4 separate regions of the Homo sapiens genome follow, and all the other regions are reported to be linked to region 1. Evidence: microRNA targets listed by miRTarBase, many of them from high-throughput screens and not tested one by one. Region 1 holds a microRNA gene; each other region holds the end of a gene's coding sequence.

Evidence for each region. The annotated mature microRNA hsa-miR-617 reads AGACUUCCCAUUUGAAGGUGGC and lies in region 1 at 818-839, shown strand. An mRNA with a match to its seed (bases 2 to 7 or 8) in the 3' UTR can be bound and repressed. Matches are read on the target gene's strand: a 7mer-m8 pairs with bases 2 to 8, a 7mer-A1 pairs with bases 2 to 7 and ends in A, and an 8mer does both.
Region 2: miRTarBase lists IFRD1 as a target of hsa-miR-617. Seed matches in the 3' UTR shown: 7mer-m8 at 1,169-1,175.
Region 3: the mRNA of CCPG1 is a reported target of hsa-miR-617. The part of its 3' UTR that is shown has no 7-base or 8-base seed match.
Region 4: miRTarBase lists NFAM1 as a target of hsa-miR-617. The part of its 3' UTR that is shown has no 7-base or 8-base seed match.

What each region holds. Positions count from the first base shown.
Region 1 is chr12:80,830,290-80,833,431 of GRCh38, reverse strand. It overlaps MIR617 (microRNA 617), which reads left to right and starts at 803; the gene lies at 803-899. The region is part of intron 4 of LIN7A (lin-7 cell polarity scaffold A); the gene reads left to right.
Region 2 is chr7:112,474,966-112,478,107 of GRCh38, reverse strand. It overlaps IFRD1 (interferon related developmental regulator 1), which reads right to left. Exons shown (of 12, transcript NM_001550.4): 12 at 905-2,678. The coding sequence ends at 2,589. Among named protein-coding and RNA genes, the nearest start is that of LSMEM1, 4.5 kb to the left of the region's middle.
Region 3 is chr15:55,353,614-55,356,613 of GRCh38, forward strand. It overlaps CCPG1 (cell cycle progression 1), which reads right to left. Exons shown (of 9, transcript NM_001204450.2): 9 at 1,626-2,796. The coding sequence ends at 2,607. PIGB (phosphatidylinositol glycan anchor biosynthesis class B) reads left to right here. Exons shown (of 12, transcript NM_004855.5): 11 at 1,185-1,365; 12 at 1,673-2,035. The coding sequence ends at 1,819. DNAAF4-CCPG1 (DNAAF4-CCPG1 readthrough (NMD candidate)) reads right to left here. Exons shown (of 16, transcript NR_037923.1): 16 at 1,610-2,796. Among named protein-coding and RNA genes, the nearest start is that of MIR628, 18 kb to the right of the region's middle.
Region 4 is chr22:42,382,516-42,385,657 of GRCh38, reverse strand. It overlaps NFAM1 (NFAT activating protein with ITAM motif 1), which reads left to right. Exons shown (of 6, transcript NM_145912.8): 6 at 438-3,142. The coding sequence ends at 497. Among named protein-coding and RNA genes, the nearest start is that of LINC01315, 15 kb to the right of the region's middle.

The DNA of each region.
Region 1 (3,142 bases):
AGGTCTTAACTGGAAGAGGGGCAATTTGGAGAGAAAGGAAAAGATTTGAAAATGACTTTGGATGTAACGGGACTATAAACAAGAACTGGTGATTGACTGGATATGCAAGGTGAAGAATAGGGAGTTACCAAGAACTCTTGGGTTTCTGACAAGGATCTTGCCTCTTGTTGACACAGCAGAAAAGATGGTTCAGGTGAGAGTGAGCAGCTGAGTACTTGGAGGTTGTGTTGTCTATGGCTCAGCCATATGAACATAAACAAGGGCATAGGTTTTAATTTAGTTTTGCCTTTTCCAAGATGTAAATTTAATTAACTGAGCTCTATCAAACTGACAGCATTTCGAAGTAGAACACTTAAAAATTATATTATGTAAACTTTTCACTCAATTACATTTGTCAACCAGGATTTCTCACCCTTGAAATTGCTGATATTTTGAATGGGATAATTCTTTCTGGGGGAGGCCATTCTGTGCATTGTAGAATGTTTATCCTGGCCAGTAACACCCTCCCCATCCAGTCACCACAACAAAAAATGTCCCCAGACCTTTTGAACTGTCCCCTAACAAGCAAAATCATCCTTGGTTGAGAATCACTATCTTAAACTAAATTAGTTCATTTTCATGAAAACAGTTCCAAACCATATAGTAGCTACAATATTAAAATCTGAAAAATGCACACATTGTACACTATGCCATAAATATGAATAGAATGGACTTCTACCAAATCATAGCATCAACATGTTTGTAGCTAAAGAGTAGAGTTGAAGGGATGGCCTGGAGCCATGTCACGGAAGCTACCATAAGCCATCATAAGGAGCCTAGACTTCCCATTTGAAGGTGGCCATTTCCTACCACCTTCAAATGGTAAGTCCAGGCTCCTTCTGATTCAATAAATGAGGAGCATTCTGGAAAAGAGATTTCATCCAAGGCTTGATCTCAATTGAATGTTCTGTGTGGAGGAGCACCAGAGTTGATCCCAATTACCATGGATGACAAAGGCAAAGCAATTGACAGCTTGCCATTATTAAATTTGGTATTGAATCTGTCTCTACAGGCAAACGTTATTGTAAGAATATCACTTTAAAATCTTCAGTCAGACTGCTAATAAGATTTATTAACCATGGTACCATGTCTGGCACTGGGAAAGGAACAGTTTAAAGAAAACGTAGATCATACCCTAAGGGAGCTTACTTTGATCTAATTATCCTAGAAACACCAAGTTAAGTTTTTCATAAGTAGAAATGGATGCACTACTCCTAATTGCCTTAGCTTTAGCTTTGAGTGATTTGTAGAAATATTGTGCCAATATGTCATGAACAGAAATATGCCAAAGCCTCACCACTCTTCTTTTTTGCCTAAATCTAGAAGGCACAATATCTATTTGACCACTCAGTAAAGTCTGTAACCAAAACCTGCAGGGTACCTGAATGCTGTCTGTCTCTCAGTTTTACAATGGATCTGAAATGAGACTGGCCACCAGGCTAGACAGTGCACAGCCACTCATCCTGAAATTCCCCTTATTTTTGTGGCCATGATCTGTTTACATTTTGAAAATCTAAATTACATGATAATTATTATTTTGCTATGCACTCTTAGGCAATGTAAGAGCAACTTTAAATATCATTGCCCATGTTATAGCAATTTAGACACAGCTAATTACCACAGGAACCTAGGGCACACACCATTTCACATGAGTCGTGTTTTATTAGATGAAATTGGCAGGAGGGATAATGCAAAGTTGTATGATGTTGGTTATCACACCACACATCATGTTATGGGACAGGATTTGTAATTGCTTCAAATATATTTTCCTTCAGTTGTATTGGATATAATTTTGCATATATTGGCAGTGTTTCACAAAGAAGCCCAATCACTTTCAGTCTGCTTGGTCTCTAATAAATTTGTTTACTCTTCTAGAAAAGGATTAATAATTATGTGCAACTTTTAGTATGTCTATTTTGTAAATAAAACAAATCAAATATATTCATTAAAATTCCCCTGATGCATTATCAATTATTTATAGGAATGTGAGACCTTGGGTCAGACTTTTAACTTTAGCTGTCTTTGTTTTGTTACTCTGCCTAGATCCAAGCACATTCATCTGCTTTCAGTAATATATTAACTGCTCAGTGACTCCACCAAAGCCTTAGTTTGAGAGATGTTAGATAGGGCAATAAATCGACAAAATATACATGAACTTGTATCTAAAGCACCTGTGTAGCCAAACAAGGCTATATAACATTGCTTGGCCAGTTTCAATAGTCATTCACTCAGTCACTCAATAAGCATTTATTAGGCATCTACATTGTACAATTTGAAGCAGTCAGGATTCTTTAATGAAAAAAAAGAGACAAAAAAGTCCTTACCTTTGTGGAGTTCACATTCTAGTATGGCAGATAAGCAATAAACAAAATAAATAAGGAAATCCATATAGTGTTAGAGATGGCAAGTGCTAAGAAAATTAATCAGTACAGCGTAAGGAGGCTAGGGGATGCTATGGCAGGGAGAGTGTGGTGCCGGTCAGAGTAGCCTCAGTTAAGGGGTGATATTCAAGGTGGAGGTCAAAGGAGATAAGGGAGTGAGCCACACCTAGGGAAGAACATTCAGATCATTCTCCTGTGACCATCAGAGGAAAGTGTCAACACCAAGTCTTTAAGGTTTGAAGGGCACTGGCATTCGAGAGAAGCAACGAAAAACCAGTGAAACTGGAGTGGATTGGAGTAGAGGGGAGAAGGAAATGAGTTCAGTGTTAGTAATTCACTTTCATTTTCAATTTTTAGTTTTTTTCTAATTAAAAAAAATCAACTTTTAAAAAATATATCTTCTACTCAATTATATGTGCCATTGTGTTAAAATGGCAATTTTTAAATCCCCAGACATTAAGTTTAGAAATAAAGCAAGCACCCCCAAATGTAGTAACAACATTGGTAACAAAAGTAATGGAAAATACTTCCTTCCAGGGCTTCTAAGCCAAGCGTCTGCAGAGCACTCTAAATGCACTGGGCCCTTTAGTTCTCAGTAAATCCCTATAGGGCACAAATTCAATGTCATTGGTGGAGTTTGGTGAATAATTTGCTAACTTATCTGAACCTTAGTTTTCTCATTGCTAAAAGATGATAATATAAGAAGCTACTTAGTTTTTCTA
Region 2 (3,142 bases), not on the chromosome of region 1:
AGTGCTCCATGTTAACAAAGAAGTAAATTAAGACATGGGATCCAGAAAATGAGGGATACAATTCAAGAGAAAGAAAAACAAATCCTCACGATAGTGCTGTCTCAGGAAAACTGCTATACAATTGGATGAGAGAAACTAGTCTAGATTGAAACAAGTACAGAATCAAGAAAAGTTGTGACAAATTTATTTGGGACTGTTTGGGAAGAATCAATGATGTGCATAAAAAGCCAAAAAAAAGAGCATTAACTCCAAGACAAAACGTTGTATGAGAATGAAAATGTAAGCACATTAAATTAATTCACGAGTGAACATACAAGTATGATCACAGCTATGCAAACAGGTACATGATCTAACCAAAATAATATTAGAAGGATGTGAAACAATAAAAGAAATTTTCACCTGTCTTAATAGTAAGTTGACAAACACCTAAAAAATAAATGGCTGTATAATCATATTATTTAGAAACCTAAAACCAAAAACTGAAGGCTGAAAGAACCGAGCTAGAAAAAACTGAAGGCTGAATGTCTCTTGGGATGGGACTGAGGAATAGGAAAGGATGGAGCAAGGGGCTTTCCTTATTAGCCTTGAAGTACCATTAAACTATGTTCAGGCTGGGCACGGTGGCTCATGCCTGTAATCCCAACACTTTGGGAGACCAAGGCGGGCAGATCACTTGAGGTCAGGAGTTCAAGACCAGCCTGGCCAACATGGTGAAACCCCATCACAACTAAAAATATAAATTAGCCAGGTGTGGTGGAACACACCTGTAATCCCAGCAACTCAGGAGGCTGAGGCAGGAGAATCGTTTGGACCCTGAAGGCAGAGGTTACAGTGAGCCAAGATTGCGCTACTGCACCCCAGCCTGCGCAACAGAGGGAGACTGTCTCAAAAACAAACAAAAACCTATGTTCATACAACACTTTAATAAAAATTCATTATTTATTTATAATTACATGTACATACATATATGCATTTGAATATCTAGAAGAAACTACCATTTGCAATCTCTTTTCCATGGTTCTAACCTACTTGGAACATAACCAAGTGACAACATACAAACAAGTTCTAGATTCTAAACCTGTTTTCCACTGCACTGTAACTGGGGGATGGGACTCAGCAACAGTGACTCCATAAGCCAGCAAATGATTTTCACCTAGAGGGAGCACCAGACTTCCAAGAGTTGTTGGGATGTGGGAGGGGAACACTAGTTTGGAAAAAAGACCTTAAATGATTTTGATACTTCTCCCTACAGTATATATGCTTCCCTACCCCTCACGGCGACCTACAGCAAGAGTATCAAAGAAACAAGTCTACGGATTTGAAATGGCATGTTGCTTGCACTATATATTTTAATCTAAAGTTTATTAAATGTTAACGTGTTGTCAAAATGCTTTTCATAAAATGAAAGAAATATACCTCATGGGCAAACAAGCAGCAATATTCTTTTTTGTTTTGCTTTTGAGACAAGGTCTCACTCGTCACCCAGGCTGGAGTGGCACAATCACGGCTCACTGCAGCTTTGACCTCCTGGGCTCAAGTTACCCTCTTGCCTCAGCACCCAAGTAGATAAAGAGTAGAAGCACACACCACCACACTCATTTTTTAAATTTCTGGTAGAGACAGGGTCTCGCTATGTTGCCCAGGCTGGTCTCAAACTGGGCTCATGCCATCCTCCCGCCTCAGCCTCCCCAGAGTGCTGATTATAGGCATGAGCCACACTGCATGTTGCCAAGCAGAAATATTCTTGAAAGTCAGAAACCTTAATCCCAATTATGTATTGCTACATTCTTTTCATCTACTTTAATGTTTGTAAATATACACATAAAGCTTTGTCTCCCTGCCCACCTGGCCTAGTCATTTTGGACTCTGTACCTCAAAGCCATAAATAATATTTCTTCTATTAGAAGAGAAGCACTTTCAGTGTGGAAAAAAATCTTTATTTCAAAGTAAAATGCACAAAGTCTCATACAGCAGATAAAATCAGTGTTACTGCTCTCAGATGTTAAGGTTAGCAACCTTTCTGGCATATGCTAATTCATCATGAACTCCCAATAGCTGAACTGAATGGCTTTTAAGTACAGCTATAAGGTCTCATGGTATAATTCCTTTTGTTGATGCCAGTGACAGGATTTTAAAAGCTACATTCCATTAAAAATTAAAAATACAGCAGCTTTTCCAGGGGAACTAGATCCCAAAATTGTACCCAGAACTCTTGTCTAAGATATTAAGTTAAATATCTTGCATGTATATATCATTATAGTAAATCAGTATTCTTGACAACCACAGTGTAAGAAATTAAACTTTGGCTAATTGTTTTCCCCATCATGAAATCAGTCTTTTGCTGTCTTCATAAATAAATTATGACCAAACATTACAAATACTTTATACATGTTTACTGATTTACAGAGAATATTTAATAATCAGAACTCACCAGTTTCAATAGTATTGTACATTAAATTATAAGCAATATAACCACTGCTACAAAAGTTATCTAAGTTAATCCAGGATAAAAACTGTGTCTAGAGTTTAAATACATTGAAATAGAAAAAAAAATAGAAATTAGAAAATAGTCTTCAAGTTCTGAAAATCTAGAAGAATTCTCCAACATCTGCTCTCTTATCTCGACATTTGCTTCTAGCTTTGGTTCGAGCTTTGAAGGCTGCAGAGTTATATAAATGCTAAAATGAAAAAAAGGAAAAACGTGCATCAGTAAGACTTAAGATATTCTTACAAAACAGAAAAAGGGTAAAAGTCACAAAGAAAAGAAATGAACTAATTTGACCCTATAAACATTTAAATGTTTATAAAACACACACAAAGAATGAAGGAGAAAAACAAAGAGTTAACAGGGGCCATGCAAGGTGGCTCACACCTGTAATCCCAGCACTCTGGGAGGCCGAGGTGGGCGAATCACGAGGTCAGGAGATTGAGACCATCCTGGCTAACACGGTGAAATCCCGTCTCTACTAAAAATACAAAAAATTAGCCAGGCATGGTGGCACATGCCTGTAGTCCCAGCTACTCGGGAGGCTGAGGCAGGAGAATCGTTTGAACCCGAGAGGCAGAGGTTGCAGTGAGCCGAGATCACGCCACTGCACTCCAGCCTGGGCAACAGAACGAGACTCCGTCTCAAAAAAAATAA
Region 3 (3,000 bases), not on the chromosome of region 1:
TTGTTTTGAGACAGACTCTTGCTCTGTCGCCCAGGCTGGAGTGCAGTGGCGTATGATCTCAGCTCACTGCAACCTCCGTCTTCTGGGTTCAAGAAATTGTCCTGCCTCAGCCTCTTGAGTAGCTGGAACTACAGGCACATACCACCATGCCCGGCTAATTTTTGTACTTTTAGTAGATACAGGGTTTCACCATGTTGGCCAGGCTGGTCTTGAACTCCTGACCTCCAGTGATCCACATGCCTTGGCCTCCCAAAGTTCTGGGATTACAGGCATAAGCCACTGCACCCGGCCTACTCTAGTCTTTCTATGCCACAATAAAACCATTACTTATTTGGATGTTAATCAGTGGACATATGTTGCTCTCTACTTCTCAATCATCTTAAATAAAAAAAAAAAACACTTCAAACTTGCCATGTGGCTGGGCGTGGTGGCTCACACCTGTAATCCCAGCACTTTGGAAGGCTGAGGCGGGTGGATCACCTGAGGTTAGGAGTTCAGGACCAGCCTGGCCAACATGGTGAAACCCCATCTCTACTAAAAAAATACAAAAATCAGCCAGGCGTGGTTGGCGGGCGCCTGTAATCCCAGCTACTTGGGAGGCTGAGACAGGAGAATTGCTGGGAGGTGGAGGTTGCAGTGAGCTGAGATTGCGCCATTGCACTCCAGCCTGGGTGACGAGAGCGAAACTCTTGTCTTCAAAAAAAAAAAACTTGCCATATAAGTATGTGATCCATCCCCTATCAGAGCAGAAAGGGAAGAGAGAAAGAATCCTTTCTGATTATGATCACAGTTTCCTACTTTATCAAATACACCTATGGAGAATTACTCTCCTATTAACAAGTTAACTTACCTGGTCCTGAGGACCATTTATGTTTCCGGAACAGAATACCAATGCTACAGAATGTTGAGTCCCCCTACTGACCTACTTCCCTCCTTGAAATGGACTTCTATGCACTAGTTTGGGCTTATAGGTTATACTGCTGCTGCTGCATAGGTACATGGTATAAGAATCATGTTTTTTTTATCTTTGAGAAAATGAGTTAAAGGCTTGCTTCTTCACTTAACTGCAACACAGTTTACAGATTCAGATTTCACATTTTGCTAAGTATAAATGACATATCTTAAGACTAATGAAAACTTTCATGTTTTACTTGTATTTATTATGGTAACTTTTCTTTTCATAGCCATGTTCACTGCCCACTTCCCATGAGATTTCTCCAGTGCCCGCCAGACCTGACTGGAAAAAGTCATTATCTTGATGAAGCAGATGTATTTTACCTAAATCCCTTAAACTGGTTACATAGAGAGTTTCATGATGATGCATCATTGCCTACTCACTTGATCACCTTCAGCATTTTGGAAGAGGTAAGTAAACATGAAAAAGAGGAAAACTCAGTATTTTAATTTTACCCCAGGTTTAGGAAACCCTCAGGTAAATAGATAATATAACCTTTTTATGGTCTGTTTCAACCCACATTTCATAATTAGTCTTTTCTCCAGTCAAAATTAGCCCCAGTTCTGTAACTATCAAAGTATTTTACTTCCTATAAGTTAATTCTTTTATTAAGCAAAAAGTTGTAGACAGCAATTAGAATAGGCAATTCTAAAATTGACTGAAACAGTACTCAGCAAAATGTAGCCTTTATTTACTTAAACATTTATTTGCTTCTAGGAAATAAGCGCTTTCCTAATTTCAAGCAATTATAAAAGAACTGCTGTTTTCTTCCACACTCACTTGCCAGAGGGTCGAATTGGAAGTCACATATATGTCTATGAACGGAAGTTAAAAGGGAAATTCAACATGAAGATGAAATTCTGAACTTTCCTAGATAAATTAACATTGCTGGGTGGAAATATTCAGATGCTGCTTAAATACTTCGGTAAACACTGGGTAAGATTCATGGAACTTAGAAAAAAGCTGTATGAACTGCTTTACCAAATATCACTACTGAGGAAATGTATAAAATACCACATAGTATAAAATTACATGTTAATACAATGCCAGATTTTAAATAAAGACCTTTAGTTTTCCTCATGGTGTAGTTTTATTGTTTCTTCCACGATATTCAGATGTGCAAAAAATTTCACAAGAAAACAAGTCAGCAAGCTCTTAAGAGGGCAGCAAATTCTTCACAAGTCAGAGGGCTCTTGAACCCACAAAAAGACAAGAAGTGAGTGTAAGATTATAAAATGTTAATGATGAAATTCCAGAACAATGTACTTTTCTCAAGCTCTGCTGCAAATTTAACACAAACATCAGTGTTAATTACACTTTGTCATGTATGACTGAGCTTGCTTTAAGCTCTTACACTGAAAGGAAGTCTCATTTCATGCACAAAATCTGTTGCATGCCTGGCTTCCTTAATAAAACTACAGTTGAACATTTCCAGTGTCAAAAAAAATTCAACGAAGCTAAACTACAGGAAAATGCAGGTTAGTAGACTTTTAACTAATGCTTCTGAGGAATAATATAAAGTTATCAAACTGATACTTAGAAACAAAAGAAAAGACATTGTCATCTTGGTAATTTCATTAGTTTCAATACCAAACATTATACAAAGCATAAATTTTTCTCTTACAGTTGTCTAATTTAACTCAATTGTGAATCAGTATTGAGGATCAAAAGGTAATTGCCCCAATTCTATTTCAAGATTTGCCATTTGTCTTCCATTAGTGCGACCATATTTATGCCATTTACCTTCCCTTTTATAAGGCTGTGGCTGAAGGTGCTTCTGCTCTTGTTTTCGATGCCTGGAGTTTTCAATATTTACCATACGTTGCTTTTTATCAGGTCGACTGAAAGCAGTAAACACATTTTTCATCTATGTTAGAGTTCAATGTATTTAAATTTAAAACAATTTTAAATGTTTTCTCCATTAATCTATGATCTGAACACTGATAAAAGATATTAAATATCTGAATTACAATCCTAGTATATCCATATAAAAATAAAGGAGTCTGTATTAGTTTTTTTGTCCTATAGAAAGAAAAAATAGACAA
Region 4 (3,142 bases), not on the chromosome of region 1:
GAGGCATTTGTAGCCCTGTTGTGAGGGGTGTTCTTCTGGGAGGGACCAGCCAGGGTGGGGAGGGAGGGAGGGGGTCCCTGGGACCCTATGATGAGCCCGCAGGCAGAGTGAGTAGGGGGCAGTCATGGAACAGGTGTGTCTGTGGGAGGAGGCGCATCCCACACATAGGGCAGAAGGCAGAGGGCAGAGCTGTGGGGGAAGCTCTGAGGCTGGAAGGGCAGGCCCATGTGGCTGGAGGGCAATGGGCAGGGGTGGGGGCAGCATGGTGGGGGAAGAGGCTGGGGAGGTGGGCTTGGAGACAGAGGGCAGGCCCCCCATCAAAGCTACACAGGAAGTGATCTGTTGCCCTCTGGCTAAAACTAAATTAGTGCAAGTTCATTCTTAATGGTCATTCTCTCTCTTTCTCTCCTTCCCTCCCTTTCTTCTTTTCTATCCAGGAGAGACCGCATAGATTCGAAGATGATGGCGAACTTAACCTGGTCTATGAAAATCTCTAGGATGGGCTCCACCGCTCATAGAGCTTGCCCTGGGTCAGAGGACCGGGGCAGCCCCTGCCACCAAAGGACTTGATCTGAGTTGGGAGTAAGGCCCCCAGGGACACCCCATCATTTCACCCTCACATTCAAGGCCCTTCCTGTCTTGGCCGGCCCCACTGCCCCCCCATTCTATGCCCCAACCACCAAGGCTTTCCCATCTTGGGGCCTTTGCCCAGGCTGTTCCTTCTGCCAGGCAGGCCCTTCCTCCCTTGGCCCAACCAGCAAAGCGCCCCTCAGTCTTCAAGGGCTTTCCTGGATGCCACCCTTGCCCAGAGCCCTGCTCACTGCCTCATGCTGACAGAGCAGCATGCTCTCTTGGCACCAGCCTGCACCTCAGCCAGTAGGGCAGCCTCTGAGCTGAGGGAGGACCCTGCAGGGGCGCCTAGCAGTGCTGTGTGGGGAGCCGAGGTATGGAGGAGCTGGGGAGCAGCTATGCAAATCCCTACCTACCCAGCTGGGCCAGAGGCACGAGGCAGCCAGGCAGGGTGGGAGCAGGGGCTGGCGTGGGAGGTCTGGGGGACAGACAAGGATGATGGACCCCTCAGAGGCAAGACTAGGATCAGGGACAGATCTGGAGGCCCAGGACATGGCTGAGAGGTGGTCAGCAGGCTGGGGGCATGGAGCAGAGAGGGCTTGGGTACAAGCTGGAGAGGAAGGAGATTCTGGCATGTTGGGGTGAGGGCAGAGGGACAGATGAGGGGAGGAGGGTGCTGGCTAAACAGGAACTGAATGAATGGCCTGAAGCTCCCTCTCCCAAGGGTTCCCACTCCCATTGGCCTGGCCCTGTACGTGCACTCTGTCATCTCCTTGGTCACCCTCTGCTCCAGGCCTTCTCCACCACAGGACCTCAGCTGTCCCTCCTTCTACCCAAGGTGGAGTCCCCCAAAGTCCCTTCTGTCTGGCCTATCCTGTGCCCACCACCTGTGGCTTCATCCAGCCCTCCTCCTCTATCTTTATCTGCCATAGGCCGCAGCCCTGGCCCCCTGTGGATTGAGGTCCCAAGTGGTCCAGCTGTGGGGTTTGGTGCTGGGACCCTCAATGGCAGCCGGAAGGTCCCTCTGAGGCAGAAGCTCAAGCCCCATGGGGACAGTGGCTCCCCAGTGCCTGGCCCTGAGCCATTTCTGCTGTTTCAGGTGCCCACATCACCCTCATTTCCTCCTCGCAGTAGCCCTGCACCGTGGCCAGAAACCCATCCACAGGCAGGCAGTGGCTGGGGTCCGGGTGCCCCGGGCTGTTGGGCTCTGCTTCCTCCCTCTGCTCCCCCATGTCTCCCTGAGTTCTCCCACCTTTGCTCATTTGTAAAATGGGCAGGTCAATCTTCCCACCCCACCGTGTGGGCTGCCCCAACCCCAAATGTGCCCAGGGAGGGGGGGGAACCCAAGGCACAGGCCCCGCCCCTGCCCCCAAGCAGCACTGGGCTACTGGCTCACAGAAGCACCTTTGGTTCTGCAGGTCATGCCCCTCCCTGCAGGGAAGGGAAAGCTGGTGGTAGAGGCTGGGCACAGACTGACGTCCAGAAGAAGTCCCTTGGCCCTGCTAGGGTGGCACCAGACTTCTCTGGTCCCACAGGACAGCCAGTGGCCTCCCAACTTGGTTCTGGGCCCCCGCCTGCAAGCACACATGGCAAGGAGGGCTTTAGCAGGCTCACATAACCGAGTGGCAAGGCCCCTGCTCCCAGAGGCTGGATTTGAATGAACTCCGGGCCTGTTTGGGGAGGTGAAGCTGCCAGGTGTGCACAGGGGCCTCCCAGGCTCCTGGCTCCACCAGCCAAGGAGGTGGGGGCAAGGGTCAGGGCAATGGGGGACAATGCCGCTCAGGGTGCAGTGAGCTCCCCTGGGAAAACCGAAGCCAGCAAGACCAGGAGAGGGCCACCTCACTGGGCCTGCCTCCCCCACCTCCTGGGCCTCTCTGACCTCAGCTCCTAGACCCTGGACCCTTGGCTGGGACTCAGCATTTTCCAGTCTTTTTCAGGGGTAGACAGGGGAGCCTGGGTTAAACTTTACCACTGTGCCCTGGCCCAGGCATCACCAACACGGCCTCCCTGCAGCTGCCCTGCCACCGACAGACCCCGATTAAACCCACACCTGGCCTTGGCCTCCCCTGCTCTATACCTTGCATGGTTTTTGCCTCACTTGGAATAAAATTCCAACTCCTCCCTGTGGCGTAGGAGGTTCTTGGGGGCTGACCCATCACCCCTCTGGTGGACAGAGACATTGCCAGCGTGGTGGTCGTCTGTGCTTGGTTCAGGGCAAGGCTGGGAGGCAGTGGGTGCTGAGGTCTTCAGTGAGCAAGGAGAGAGGCAGGGAGGAGGAGGAGGAGGAGGAGAGCACAGCATGAAAGGACGGGACCCTAAAGGGCTTTGGCCCAAGGGAGGGTGGGGCAAGAATGTTCTGAGACTTCTGTGGGCAGCAAAGAGGACTGAGCACCTGTTCTCCAGCCCCCAGGACTGAGAGCCTGCAGAGACAAGCTGGCACAGGGCGAGGGGTGGCAGGGAACTTCAGGGTGGGAGGTGCATGGGGCAGGCGGGAGGAGGAAGAACAGAGAGGGGACAGAGAGGGTATGAATGGGAGCTCCTGGGGTGCAGGCTTGCTTTCCACTATGAATGG